2 linked regions of the Homo sapiens genome follow. The protein of the gene in region 2 interacts with the protein of the main gene of each other region in a pairwise test. Each region holds a gene or a part of one and is shown on either strand. Other genes may lie near its edges.

Region 1 (6,043 bases), on a different chromosome or scaffold from region 2:
ACAGATGAAAGTCTAGTTTCCCAAAACTGGGCCGTGTGTGTTCCCTCACCCCACTCCAGGCTTGTCTCGTCACCTCAGTGGAGACATTGGCACGCTCTGAAACTCCTCCTCAGCCCCTGCCTGCTACAAGCTGGAGCAGGGCTTCCCCTCCTGGGAAAGGAGTTGCCTGTCTCAGGTCAGCCTCCCCCAGCTGGGGAGGGCGCTGCTGCAACAGCAGGCACCCAGCACATCCTTGCAGAAGGAAGGGAAGGCAGGAGGCTCGGCCCTGCCGCCTGGGATGGGTGACATCATGGGACAAGCCCTGTGTGCTTGCTGGAGACCACTGGGAGCTGCAAGGAGGCTGAGTTCTGTTCCATCTCCCAACAGCTGCCACCATGCCCCACCCTCACCCATGAGGAAGCCCCAGGAAACCCCCACCCAAGGCGGAGGCTGAGGAAGCCGGGCGGACGCCCAGCACGCTGTGGAGCCATGCAGGGGAACTTCAGAAAACACATCTCAACACAGGGGACCTCAAAGAGATCAAAATGCATTTAATGTGGTCTAGTCTCATCGCCTACGTCTTTAGATACTGCTATGTATTGAAAATAACATGAAAACTCTCCAGTTTCACCATTTAAAATAATTTGACATTCTATGCCCTCACGCAGGGCAGACACCCCGTACAGGGGCCTCCCAACGGTGGCTCCTCCCCGCCCCCCAGGACCCTCTGGGTGGGGACCACGCAGCACAGCACCAGCAGAGGCTCAGGGGGTGGCCACCGTGCTCTGAGCAGCAGGCATAGGCTGCACACAGACACACACTCAAGTACACGGTTTCACATGGGCACACACACAGCCTCCTACACACGAGCCGGACGCACACGCTCACCTCCAGATGTCTCATCCTGGAACACAAGCTCCACTCAGGAGCAGACGTGCATAATCAGGGCAGAGGGTCGGGGACTGTGGGGTTCACCTGTGCCAGTGCCCAACCTGATGGGTGGGTGCCCTCCCTCACAGGAAACTTGTACACGGAAACACCTGGGGGTAGACAGACACATAACCGCCTGCATACACACACACACACACACACACACACACACACACGTATAGATCACGTATCTGTATTACTAACCCAGTCATACACATGAAGAGCCGAGTGTGCATGTGTGCACCACACATGTATGCATGCAGGCTCACACAGGCACACGCCTCCACACACACACTCCCCAGGGGCCAAGTCTTCCTCGCTCCTGGCTCATCCCATCCGCCCTCCCGCTTCAAGTGCACTAAAGAGGGAGACTATTTTGGTCTTTAGCACAAGCAATAAATAAATAAATAAATACGAGGGAAGGAAGAAAGAGGGCAGGAGAATCAAGCATCTGCCGCCTTTGGGGAGATGAGGCGCTGGGGCTGCTCTCCCGCAGGGTGGGGGCTGGGAGGTAAGAGCACAGACCTCCAAGAGGGCCAGGAGGTGGGCCTGGGGTCCTCGGACTCAGCTCTGGGTCGGGGGAGTAGAAGGCTGTCTCACTGGCCCTGGAAGGGCACAGGCCCCTACACCAGCACCAAGTGACCAGGGTCACCACTGTCCCTCAGCATGGCCATCAGGGAGGCGAAGTGTCAAGCTCTCCCCTGCCAACTTCACCCCAGTACCCAGGGCTAAGGCTGAGAAGGCCCCTAAGGCTTCGGGGCTAGGCCTGGGAGCAGGAACCAGCTGAGGCACCCCTGGCAGACCCCGAGAGGAAAGAGCTGCCTCGGCGGAATCTTCTATGCCAGAAATGAGTGTGGGGCTGAAGCTGGGACAGGATGCTGAGTCGGGCCTACCCCAGGATGTAGGGGTCGGGTGTCTTGACTTCCATTGCCCCAGACCTCAGGGCTGAGTCTTCAGCTGCTAAGGAGGGGAGGAGGTGGAGGGAAGAGGCAGACACCCCCACCCCACGCCCCCAGCCCCTCTCTGTCTCCTGCACCCCACCCACTCACTGCATGACCCCCTCTGCTCTCTGCCTCAGCTTCCCCACTTGGGCCAGAGTCCTCGGTGCCTTCTGGCTCTGAGCTGTCTCGGGGTGCCTTCTGGCTCTGAGCTGTCTCGGGGTGCCTTCTGGCTCTGAGCTGTCTCGGGGGCAGAGTTGGAGCAGGAGACACATCCTTTCTGATTACTGGCTTCTGGAGAAGCCCGACTAGAAGAGAGCAGGTTTTCTCCGCAGCCCTGGGAAGGGCCTGGCTCTACCATGGACCTGACCCAACCAGCTGCCATGAACAAGATGGGGTGGCAGAGCCAGCAGTGACAACAAGGGGACCCCAAACCTCTTCCTGATGAGGGTGCCATAGTGCCTCAACCTGGGGGAGGGTGGTGGAGGAGCGGCCCTGGAAGACTCGGCAGGAATTCTGTTCCACGGCTGGTTTCTGATTCAGCTTTGAATGAGCGTGGCCCTCCCCAGTCATCCCAGTTGGCAGGAGGGGGTGGCGATTCCTCTCCTTTCCTAAGATCTTTCCTCTGCCATTCAGCGCTGACCAGGGCCTGGCTGTGCCCTGCCTGAACTCTGCTGTGCTGCTCCAGGTGAGGGAGGGACAGGATGTGGTCCTATGTCAGGCAGACCTGGCCCCTGCCACCTTCACAAGGCAGACAGAGGGGCTGGAGGAACTTCAGCAGTGGAGGTATGGGAGGGGTGGGGTGGGACAGGGTTGGGGGGAGATGAGCAAGCCCAGAAAGAACAGGACAACCCGGAGTCTCTAAGGCACGACTCACACTGTGGGCCCAGTGGGGACGGGGCTGCCAGCTTCCTCCTAGCCTGGGATCCCGACTTCCCTTCCCAAGGAGCCATCCCGGCCTATAGCTCCTAACCACCCCTCACTGTGGAATTGGGCGGAGGCCTGGACAGAAATGGAGAGAGAAGCAAAACAGGAAAATCGAGGGTGCGGGGAGGAACCCTCGATGGCAGGTCCCATGCCTGGCCCTGAGACACATCTCTAAGGTACAAAGGCAAACTCTAAAAGCTCAAACCAGTTTCTTCCCAGCCCCACCCACCACCCCAACGACAGTAGAAAGCTTTTATTACGATCATTAACATGGTCTTGATTTTTCTATCACAAACAGAGCCTAGCTGGCTCGTGAGCTCGATGAAGTGCGGTCCCAGAGCACCCTGCTTGCCCAGGGACTGTGGTGCCCACACACACGGGGAGAGGCCAGTCCCACCTCGGGGAACCCTCTGGAGCCTTCAGCCAGCTGCTGCATCCTGGCAGACCCATGGAATTCTAATTGTTCTTTTTGCCCCCTGTGAATTAAAAAAAAATTTTTTCAATTGCATGGTAATTTTTTTTTTTTGTAAACAGTCTCACCCAAGCTAAGGTCAAGAAAGCTGAAACCCGGTGTTTCTCCCCAAGTTAAAAACCAGCAAGGAGCACCGCAGCTAGCCAGCCTTGGACAGCAGAGGCTGGGCCCACCATCGAGCTGAGCTGCTTCCCCGCAGGCTGCAGCTCCATCTTCAGGCAGAAGCCCTGGCCCTCGTGGCCTGGCCCCCCAGGAGGCCACTTCTTTGCCCTGAGCCTGTGATAGCCTCTGAGGCCGGGGGCTGCCGCTCTGGCTGCCCCCTCTCCGGCCAAACTTCTGAGGCCGTTGCAAAGAAACATAAAACGACTAAAACGCTACTGAGTCTGCAACCCAGGGCACTGGGCCCGTTCTGCTCAAACCCGGGGCCCCTGAGCGACCGCGGGGCCTCTCCCCAGCCGGGGGTGGATGCTGCATGTCGGCCAAGGTTGGCTCAGATCTCTGACTCCCGTCTGTAGGGCCGCTGCTCCAGGACCCCGCCGCCAGCCTGGAGTCTGTCAAAGTCATGCCTGGCCTGGGGGCTGAGGCCGTCCCGGCTTCGGCCGTCCTGGTCTCCGTCCGCCTCATCCTCCTCGTCACGGCTCAGGAAGGCCAGCTCGTTCTCGTAGCAGAAGGAGTTGGCGCTGGGCAGCAGGAACTTGTTCTCTACCAGATCCTTCGCACTGCAGCGGGGCGTAGAGGGCACCTCATAGGTCTTGTGGAAGTGCGAGTAGTCAATCTTGTACTGGTTCTTCTCCTCGAAGAGCACGGGCTCAAAGCGGTGACCCCACAGGATCTCATTGGCCAGGTAGGAGCTGCGGGCCTGGGTGGTCATGGCTGTGGCCTCCACCATGCCTTCCAGGATGACCACGATCTCAAAGTCGTCCGTCTCCAGGTCCTGCCGGCTGATGCCGAAGAGCGGGCTGGCCTCGTCAATCTCATGCAAGATGGTGATGGGCGACACCAGAAAGATGCGGTCCAGGCCCTTGTCGAAGCCCACATCGATGTCGATCTGGTCCAGCGGGATGTACTCGCCCTCCTCGGTGACCCGCGGCTTGATGAGCTGCGCGCGCACATGGGCCTCCACAATGTGGCTCTTGCGCAGGTTACCCACACGCCACATGAGGCAGAGCTTGCCGTCACGCAGGGCCACCACGGCGTTGTGGCTGAACAGCAGCGTCTGTGCCCGCTTCTTGGGCCTTGCCATCTTGGCCATGATGGCACCAATCATGAAGGAGTCGATGATGCAGCCCACGATGGACTGGGCCACCACCATGAAGACGGCCACCGGGCACTCCTCCGTCACACAGCGCAGCCCGTAGCCGATGGTGGTCTGCGTCTCGATGGAGAAGAGGAAGGCCGCCATGAAGCCGTGCACCTGCATCACACAGGGTGTGCGGCCCCGGCCCTCAGCCGGCTCCAGGTCACCGTGTGCCACCGCGATGACCCAGAAGATGATGCCGAACAGCAGCCAGGAGGCAAGGAAGGCCAGCGAGAAGATGAGCAGCATGTACCGCCAGCGGATGTCCACACAGGTGGTGAACATGTCAGCCAGGTAGCGCTGTGACTTCTCGTCCATGTTGGCGAACTCAATGTTGCACTGGCCATTCTTCTTGACGAAGCGGTTGCGGCACCTGCGCCGCGTGTGCACCTTGCCGTTGCCGAAGCCGTTGGCGCCCGACATGGTGACCAGGTGCAGCCCGTCCTCCTCCGATGACACGATGCTGTAGGGGTTGGCCCGGCTGGCCGCGGTCATCCCGGGGGTTGGGGGACCCTGGCTCGCCCCCAGGCTAGCTCCAGGCAGGGCGGCTCCTGCAACAGAGACGACAGCATGTCTGGCTGGGCTGGTGGCTCCGGGCTCCTCTACCCCCATCCCAGGGCCCCCAGACGTGACTGGAGGACGCTTCCACCCTGATTGACCCACGATCGTGCTCTGGTCTTGCCCAAGCCAGCTCCCCACTCCGCCTTCCCAGTGCGAATGGCCACCCCCTTCGGGCCCCCAGCAGCTCCAGCCAAAAACCTCAGCTCCACACCTCACTCCCACACTGAGGGCTCTGAAGAGTCTATTTAGGATCCGACCCCTTCTCCCACCCTCAAGGCCTGAATCTAACAGTGCCTGCCCAGCCAGTTCGGGGCACAACTTGCCAGCCTCTCTGCCTCTGCCCATGGCCCCCCAGTCTCCATGGCAGCCACAGAGGGCCTGTGGAAGCTGAGTCGGTGCCTATCCCTCCCCTGCTCAATGCCAGAGGCCCCCCAGGACATGCAGGACCTGCACAGGGAAGCTCCTGACCCCTCGGACCTCACCTCCCAGCCTCCTCCAGCGGACTCCCCTTCCGGCCACAGCCCCTGGCCCCAGGCTGTCCCTCAAACCCACCCTGGACACCCTCCCGCAAGACATCCTGCCACTGCCTCGCCACCTTGGCACCAGAGGCCTCCTTGTGCCCCAGGAAGACCCATGTCCCATCCCTGCTATATCCACAGCACTGCCCCTTCTAAGGGCACAATGGCGGCAGCAATAACAATAACGTAGCCAGGGGCACTCAACCATCAACCCCACCCTGAGACCACCACTCCCTAAGGGTAGCACATTTTCTTTTTTTCTTTTCTTTCTTTTTTTCTTTTTTAGACAGAATCTTCCTCTCGTCACCTAGGCTGGAATGCAATGGTGCGATTTCAGCTCACTGCCATCTCCGCCTCCTGGGTTCAAGCGATTCTCCTGCCTCAGCTTCCTGAGCAGCTGGGATTATAGGTGCCCGCCACC
Region 2 (7,029 bases):
ATGCCGCAAATAATTTTGTCCAGAGGAGGTGGTTATTTGGTATGTTTTGGACATTCTCTGCTTTAGGGATTTGTTTGACTTTTTCTTTCTTTTATTTTTAGTGAGTGAGAAATGAAAAAAGTTAATGCAGAACAAGGATCATAAAGCAGACTCAGATATAGATCACAAACAGGTTTAGGTAGATTTCAGGTCTCTGTTACAGTCTGTTAAAGAATAAAGAAAAGAAAGAAGGAGAGAGGGGACTGTGGCTAGGAGGGATGAAGCCAGACTGTTCAGCCTCTCAACTGCCCGGGTTTTGCCATCGATGGAGGAAAAGAGAGATGGGAAGGAAAAGGGAATGAGGGAGACAGAGAGAGATGGAGAAACTGGACAGAGACTGAGAGGAAGGTGCAGGAGGCCCTGGCAGTGCCCCAGGTGGCAGGTGGCAGGGTGGCCTCACAGGTGGTAGCAGGTTTCTCATGGGCTAGGATGAGTGACACGGAAAGAATGCTGGAATAGGACCTGGCTACAGACTCAAGTTCTGGTCCAAGACCTGACAGTAACTTGCTGTGTGACTCTGAGGAAATCCTTTGCCCTCTCTGGTCCCAAGTCCCTGGTGCCACCAGTCACGGCCGTTTCACATTTAAAAAAGCCAAGGATGAAGAGTAGGAGATAGGCATACTACATCCATGGATTTGACCCCCAGTAGAGGGGAGGCACCCCTTTTTGGCCCTGCCTTTAAACCCAGGCAGCCAAGAACAGAGGAAGAGCCCTGTATACTCCAACAGACTTCAGCTGTGGTCTCCAAGGCTCGGGACTGGGCCCAGGGCAGTGTAGAAGGTCATGGAGATTGTAGCTGAGGAACTGGGGGGAGCACACCCCCATTTCTGTTGCCACTTGCCCTCCTCACCAACACTGATTCCACAAATCGCAACTGAATGCCTGTTCAGCACAGGCAATGTGCTGTCCCAGAGGACGTAGTGATGAGCAGGACAGCCTCACTGCATGCAAACCCTCCAGGCTGCAGGGGTGGGAATGTCTGCCAAAGGTCCCCAGGGCTCTCAGCTCACCAGCAGGTACACCCAAGGTTGCCTCAACCTTCAGACCCAGGTTGGAAAGGTCCTAGCCCCACTACAGGTATACCTCAGCACCTCAGAGCCACCCCACAGTGCCTCCAAGTTATTTCCAAGAGGGCTTAGGGCCACCTCACTGACAGCATGCTCTCTCTCTCTGCTCTCTCTTCTCTCTCTCTCCTCTTTCTTCTCTCTCTCTCTCTCCTCTGTCTTCTCTCTCTCTCTCTCTCCTCTCTCTCTCTTCTCTCTCTATCTCCCTTTCTTGACTCACACATAGGCCCCCAGGGCCCTAAAGCAGTGATGCTTGAACCTGAGAGTTATGCAGGTATCCCAGCTTCTGCAGTCAACTCCTCCCTCTTGAGCTTCTCCCAAGTTGCCCTTCAAGCAGGGGAAGGAGATAGATAGGATCCCAGCCTCTCCATGATACTACTCCCCAACCCCCTCCACCCACATCTGCCACAGAACGCCTGCCTTCTTCAGAAAAACAAACACCCATTTGCCCCCCGGCTCAGGCTACACAACACCCAGAGGAACCAGATGCCCACCAGCCCTACAAACACTTGTTCCAGGTTTGTGCTCATCAGGGACACCCTGTTGCACAAAGAAGAAACTGACCTGGTACCTCCCTTGGCGGGGAATCCATTCCTGGGGAGAAGATGAGAGGAGAACAATGAGAACATACAGGAGAAGGAGCTGAACACCGTAAATGAGTGCCAGGTTAGGTGTCATGGGAGGTTAGGAGAGGAAGAATTACTTTCATCTGGAAAAATCAGAAGCCAGCTATATGGACAGGTGGTATCCATGGTGCATCATAAAAATGAGAAAAATTAAAAATGTGAAATGGAGGAACAAAGCTTTCCAAGAAGAAATGGAATAAGCAAAGGCTTTCCCAACACTGGGAAGAATGTTGGGCAGAGTTGGCAAACGTAAGAGGCTGTCATTACCACTGCCCCTTCCAGTGTTCATGGCAGACATGACAATGGATCACAGCACTGCTCCATGACTAATGGATCACAGCACTGCTCCATGGAAGCCATGCACCATCAGCTAGTCATAGTGGGTACAACAGATAACACTTCGCTGCTCTGTCTGCAGAAGAATAATGAACTATCGAAGAGGATTAGGACAGAGGATCTGAAAGGGAATTTGTGGGAGAGAAGGCAGGAAGGGCAGGTTGAAACTAAATAATAGAGGGTCATCCAATCCACCTGTCATTCCATATTGGCAATTCCTTCCTTTTGGAAATGTCTTGCCCTCTGTCAATGACCTCTAAGAAGAGCTGCATCAGACTAATTCACACTGAGGTATTACAACTTAGTGTTATGAGGACTCCTGGGTATCAACTGATCTAGAGTTTTTCAAAATGCAGTCCACTTTCCCAGGGTCCAGTGGTGGGGGCACTTACTAAACTGCAGATTCCTTGGCCTTGCCCCCAGAAGTTCTTATTCAGCTGAGCTGGTGAATGTTTACACTTTAATGTTTGAGCATAAAAGTTTCATGCTCAGGCCAGGCACGGTGGCTCACACCTGTAATCCCAGCATTTTAGGAGGCCAAGGCAGGTGGATCACCTGAGGTCAGGAGTTCAAAACCTGACCAGGCCAACATGATGAAAACCTGTCTCTACTAAAAATACAAAAAAAAAAAAGAGCCAGGTGTAGTGGTGGGTGCCTGTAATCCCAGCTACTCAGGAGGCTGAGGCAGGAGAATTGCTTGAACCCAGGAGGCAGAGGTTGCCATGAGCCGAGATCGCACCACTGTATTCCAGCCTGGATAACAAGAGCAAAATTCCTTCTCCAAAAAAAAAAAAAAAGAGTTTCACGCTCAAACTTGTCAGCTTGTCAGCAACCAAGTCCCATTCATCCTATAGAAGACACCTGGAGCCCAGAGTTATCCCTTGTTTTCCCTAAAGACAGACTGTATCAGTTATCAATTGTGAGTAACAAATCATTCCAAAACTTAATGGCTTAAGGAAACAACCATTTTTTTATTTCTCACAGTTCTGTGGGTGGGCAGGGCTCAGCTTGGCAGTCCTGCTGGTCCCACTGGGGGCCTCTCATGCAGCTACAGTCAGATGGTGGCTGAGGCTGCAATCACCTGGGGGCTCCACCGAGCTAGAACATCCAAGATGGTTCACTCATAGCCCTGGAGGACTGGCAGAGATGGCTGGGAGGCACAGCTGAGCTGTGGTGCTGGGGTGGCTGGCCCTCTATCTCCATGTAGTTTCAGGCCTCCTTATTCACATGGCCTCTCCATTAGTCTCTCGAGCAGCATTCAGCAGTGCATTTCTAATTCTGCTAGTCTCCAGAGCAGAGTATAAAAGTGGACTTCTAACATGGGGGCTCAGTGCTCCTAAAAGCAGAAGGTGCTAGGCTTTCTGAAGGCTTAGTTCTAGAACTGGCACAACATCCTTTCTGCCACATTCTTGTGGTTAAAGTGAGTCACAGGGCAAGCCCAGACTCAAGATGGGATGAGACTACCTGAGGACAAACACCGAGAAGCATGACTAATGGAGGGTCATCTTTGGAGACCAGCAAACCACCCACTGAAAGCTCGTGCACAGCCAAGCCCAGAGCTCCACCCAGGGTACTTCTATTCCTCCCTATTCCAATATGCACCAAATTTCTTGAAGGCAGAGATTGAGAGAGCAGAAGAGCGGATGGGAAGGGACAGGCAGTGAGGCAAAGATCAGGGCTTAGTGGATTGCTGAGGAGCTTCTTCTGGCAGGTTCTTCTCTCTCTGTCTCTCTCCTTGCAGCCCTCTGTTATCTCAGTCTCTTCCCAGCTCCTTTACATAAAACCAAGTCCTGTTATGCCCCAGCCCAGGTGTCCTAGGTCCCTTAAGGTAGACCTGGAGCTGAAAAGAGAGGCTGGAGGGAACTAGGATGGGGGTAGATATATGGTCCTACCTAGGATGCTCTCAACTCCTAGAGCACCCTCCTGAAGGAGGAGTCACAGATGTTCTCAACTCCAAGCTCCAGATGATGCCTGGCCACCTCCTCCACCCATCAGAGCCAGCCTATGCTGTGTTCTGGCCTCAGGCCCTGCTGGGGTATCTGGCCCCTTCAATCACCCTGCTGTCAGGCTGACCTGAGCGTCACTCTGCCAGTCCCTTACGTGCCATGTGAAATAACACATGTAAGATACATGGCCCCAAACTGACATGCATAAAGGGCCATATACATCGTGGGTGTTACCATGGTTATCCCAGATTGTACACAGTTGTATTCTTTTGTTGCTACCTTTTATAACAAAAGATGCAGAGCTTTGTCATTTTTACAGTTTTTGCAGCTATCACCTCATTTTACTTCCTACTTTGTAGGCCAGTGCCTCTAAAACTGAGTGAAGGACCAGTTTTAATATTATTATTCTAATCCACTGCACAGCTATACTTTTGCAAAACGCAACAAAAATTAATCACTGGAAAAATGAAATGAAAACAGCCGTACAGTTACAAGCACCAATGTTTATTGTTAGATTCAATAAACATAAAATTACTGCATCAAATTTCTATGAATATTTCTAAGCACTCTCAACTTCTATAATTACCTTGTTGGGAGACAGGACACACTGATTGTGAACTGCCTTTTAAGTAGCAAGGTAATAGGGGAGGAAGCTGGGATCTGGCAAAAGCTAAGCCTCTCACTTGGGTTTTCTGACTCTGAAGCTAACTCCGTGTCATTACAGATCTTGGCCCAATCGTCTCTGTGTAGAGTTGAAAAAAGAAAACAAACAAACAAAAAACCTAGGATCTCAGAGAGGGAAAGTACCATGCCCCAAATCATACAGTAACTCAATGGCCAGTGGATACTGGGACCATATACCTCCCCACCCTGCTAAGAGCTATTTCCCCACCCACAGATATCCTATTTGAATTGTCCAAGGTCCTGGATGCCTACGGACTGAGTCATGCAGGACTCTGGGGGAGGTATTTTCGACCCCGGGTGACTGTTGTCCTCCCCCGCATCCTCAAGCAATCCCCCGCCCTGCTATCCTACACCTTCCCCGCCCTCTCAGAGACTGCGGGGACTGCGCTGGCTGGTTTCAATTAATCAACTGGGTCTCTTGCTGTTCCAAAAATAAATATGCCACAGAAGGGGACACCGACAGAATGTGCACCATCGTTCCCCCTTCCTCACCCTCCAGCCCCTCTCTCCAACTGCACACAGTGTCCTGAGCCTCAGCACGCAGATGCAGGCTTTCAGCCCACCACCCTCCAAGAAAAAGCCATCTCCTCTCTTCTGGAAAGGAATTAAGAAATGAAGTCACCGTATGCTTGTGCTGCATGGTACAGCTGCCTAGAGCTGCCTGAGCCGGGCCTTATAAATATCTCCCCAAACTAGCATGCTGTGGCCAAAGCTCTCTCAATGCTCAAATCTGAGCTAGGGGAACAGCTGCCTCCTCCAAGCCCAGCCCAGCCCTCTGAGAGCATGTTTTCTGAGATTCACAGAAAATAGAGCACTTGCCCCACACACAGCACCCAAAGGCAATCCCTGGAAATAATTCAAATGTTAGCACCAATGGCTTCTGCAAACACCAAAAAAAAAAAAAAGAAGAAGAAGAAGAAGAAAGATAATTAAAAGACACATACAGAAGCCATTGGCGGTAGGATTATTACTGTAAGTACTGTACTTACTACTGTAAGGAAAGGAGGACTCCATCCGTCTTATCAGCACAGACTGAGACACACGCAGACTCATTTATAACTAAGTAGGCTGGAGAATAATCCGGGATGTCAAAAGAATTTCTCAGATGTATTTTCGAGGAATCTTCAGAGCACCTGAAGGAATAATTACCATCACTGAGCAATATTACCATCACAATAGCCAGGCATTGTGCTAAGCACTGCTCAAGAGGTAGTGTGCCTGGGCAAAGTGGGTAATCAATCAGTATTTATTTGGATGTGTGGGTGGGTGGATGGATGGATGGATGAAAGGATGGATGGATAGATGGATGATAGATGAGCAGGCAGATAGGTGGATAGATGGATAGATGAATGAGTGGATAGATGGTGAGTGTCAGTCTGTTTTTCATTGCTATAAAGGAATACCTGAGACTGGGTAATTTATAAAGAAAAGAGATTTATTTTGGTTCATGGTTCTACAGGCTGTATAAGAAGCATGGTGCAGGCATCTGCAGCTGGTGAGGCCTAAGGAAGCTTCCAATCATAGCAGAAGGCAAAGGGGGAGCTGGCATATCACATGGCGAGAGAGGGAGCAAGAGAGCTGCCGGGTTCTTTTAAACAACCAGGTCTCATGTGAACTAACGAGCAAGAACTCACTCATGACCACAGGGAGGGCACCAAGCCATGGTGAAGGGTCCGCCCCCATGACCCAAACACCTCCCACCAGGCCCCATCTTCAACACTGGGGATCACATTTCAACATGAGATTTGGACGGGACAAACATCCTAACCATCTCAGTGGGTTGTGGATGTATGGATGAATACATGAAAGAAAAATGATCTCAGTCAGCAGGATCCAGGCCCTGGGGGTTTGACTAGAACCTCCATAAACATGGGGAGTGAATATGACTTTTCCATCCCTGTTCCAATCCCGAAGTCCCCTAAATTCCCAGCCAGCCACCACCTCCTGGAAGCCCTCCAAGAAGAAGTAACATCCTTCCTGAGAAGATGAGGCCCATTTTCTTCCTCTCCTCCCATCCACAGGGTTGCATAAGAGATTAAGTCATCTCTGATGAAACCTGCAGCAGAGAAAGCTGGGGGCCAAGATTATACAAGGAAGGTCCTGGGAGGTCAGCTTTTCCATTTCTCCTGCAGCCCAGAGTCTCACCCTGTAAACTGTGCTGCCTGCTGACACACCACCCCGAGTGAGGCCTCATCCTCAGGGATCCCCAGCCTCAGAGCACAGGGGGATCAGGGACCTGAGGTGGGGTGCAGGAGCTCAGAAGCTAAAGTCACATGAGAAAAGAGGGCCCAACACTGTCTGAGCAACATGGTTCTAGTCACTTCTTTCCCCAGA

The links. The genes of interacting proteins can lie anywhere in the genome.
Region 1: the proteins of CAV3 (region 2) and KCNJ12 come close enough for resonance energy transfer, tested with the Homo sapiens proteins (one study listed by BioGRID).

What each region holds. Positions count from the first base shown.
Region 1 is NC_000017.11:21,414,338-21,420,380, reverse strand, and holds the end of KCNJ12 (ATP-sensitive inward rectifier potassium channel 12), read right to left. Parts: intron 5,095-6,043; 5' UTR 5,039-5,094; coding exon 3,737-5,038; 3' UTR 511-3,736; downstream 1-510. UniProt on the Homo sapiens protein: Inward rectifying potassium channel that probably participates in controlling the resting membrane potential in electrically excitable cells. Probably participates in establishing action potential waveform and excitability of neuronal and muscle tissues.
Region 2 is NC_000003.12:8,736,775-8,743,803, forward strand, and holds part of CAV3 (caveolin-3), read left to right. Parts: intron 1-4,494; exon of another isoform or gene 4,495-5,828; intron 5,829-7,029. UniProt on the Homo sapiens protein: May act as a scaffolding protein within caveolar membranes. Interacts directly with G-protein alpha subunits and can functionally regulate their activity. May also regulate voltage-gated potassium channels.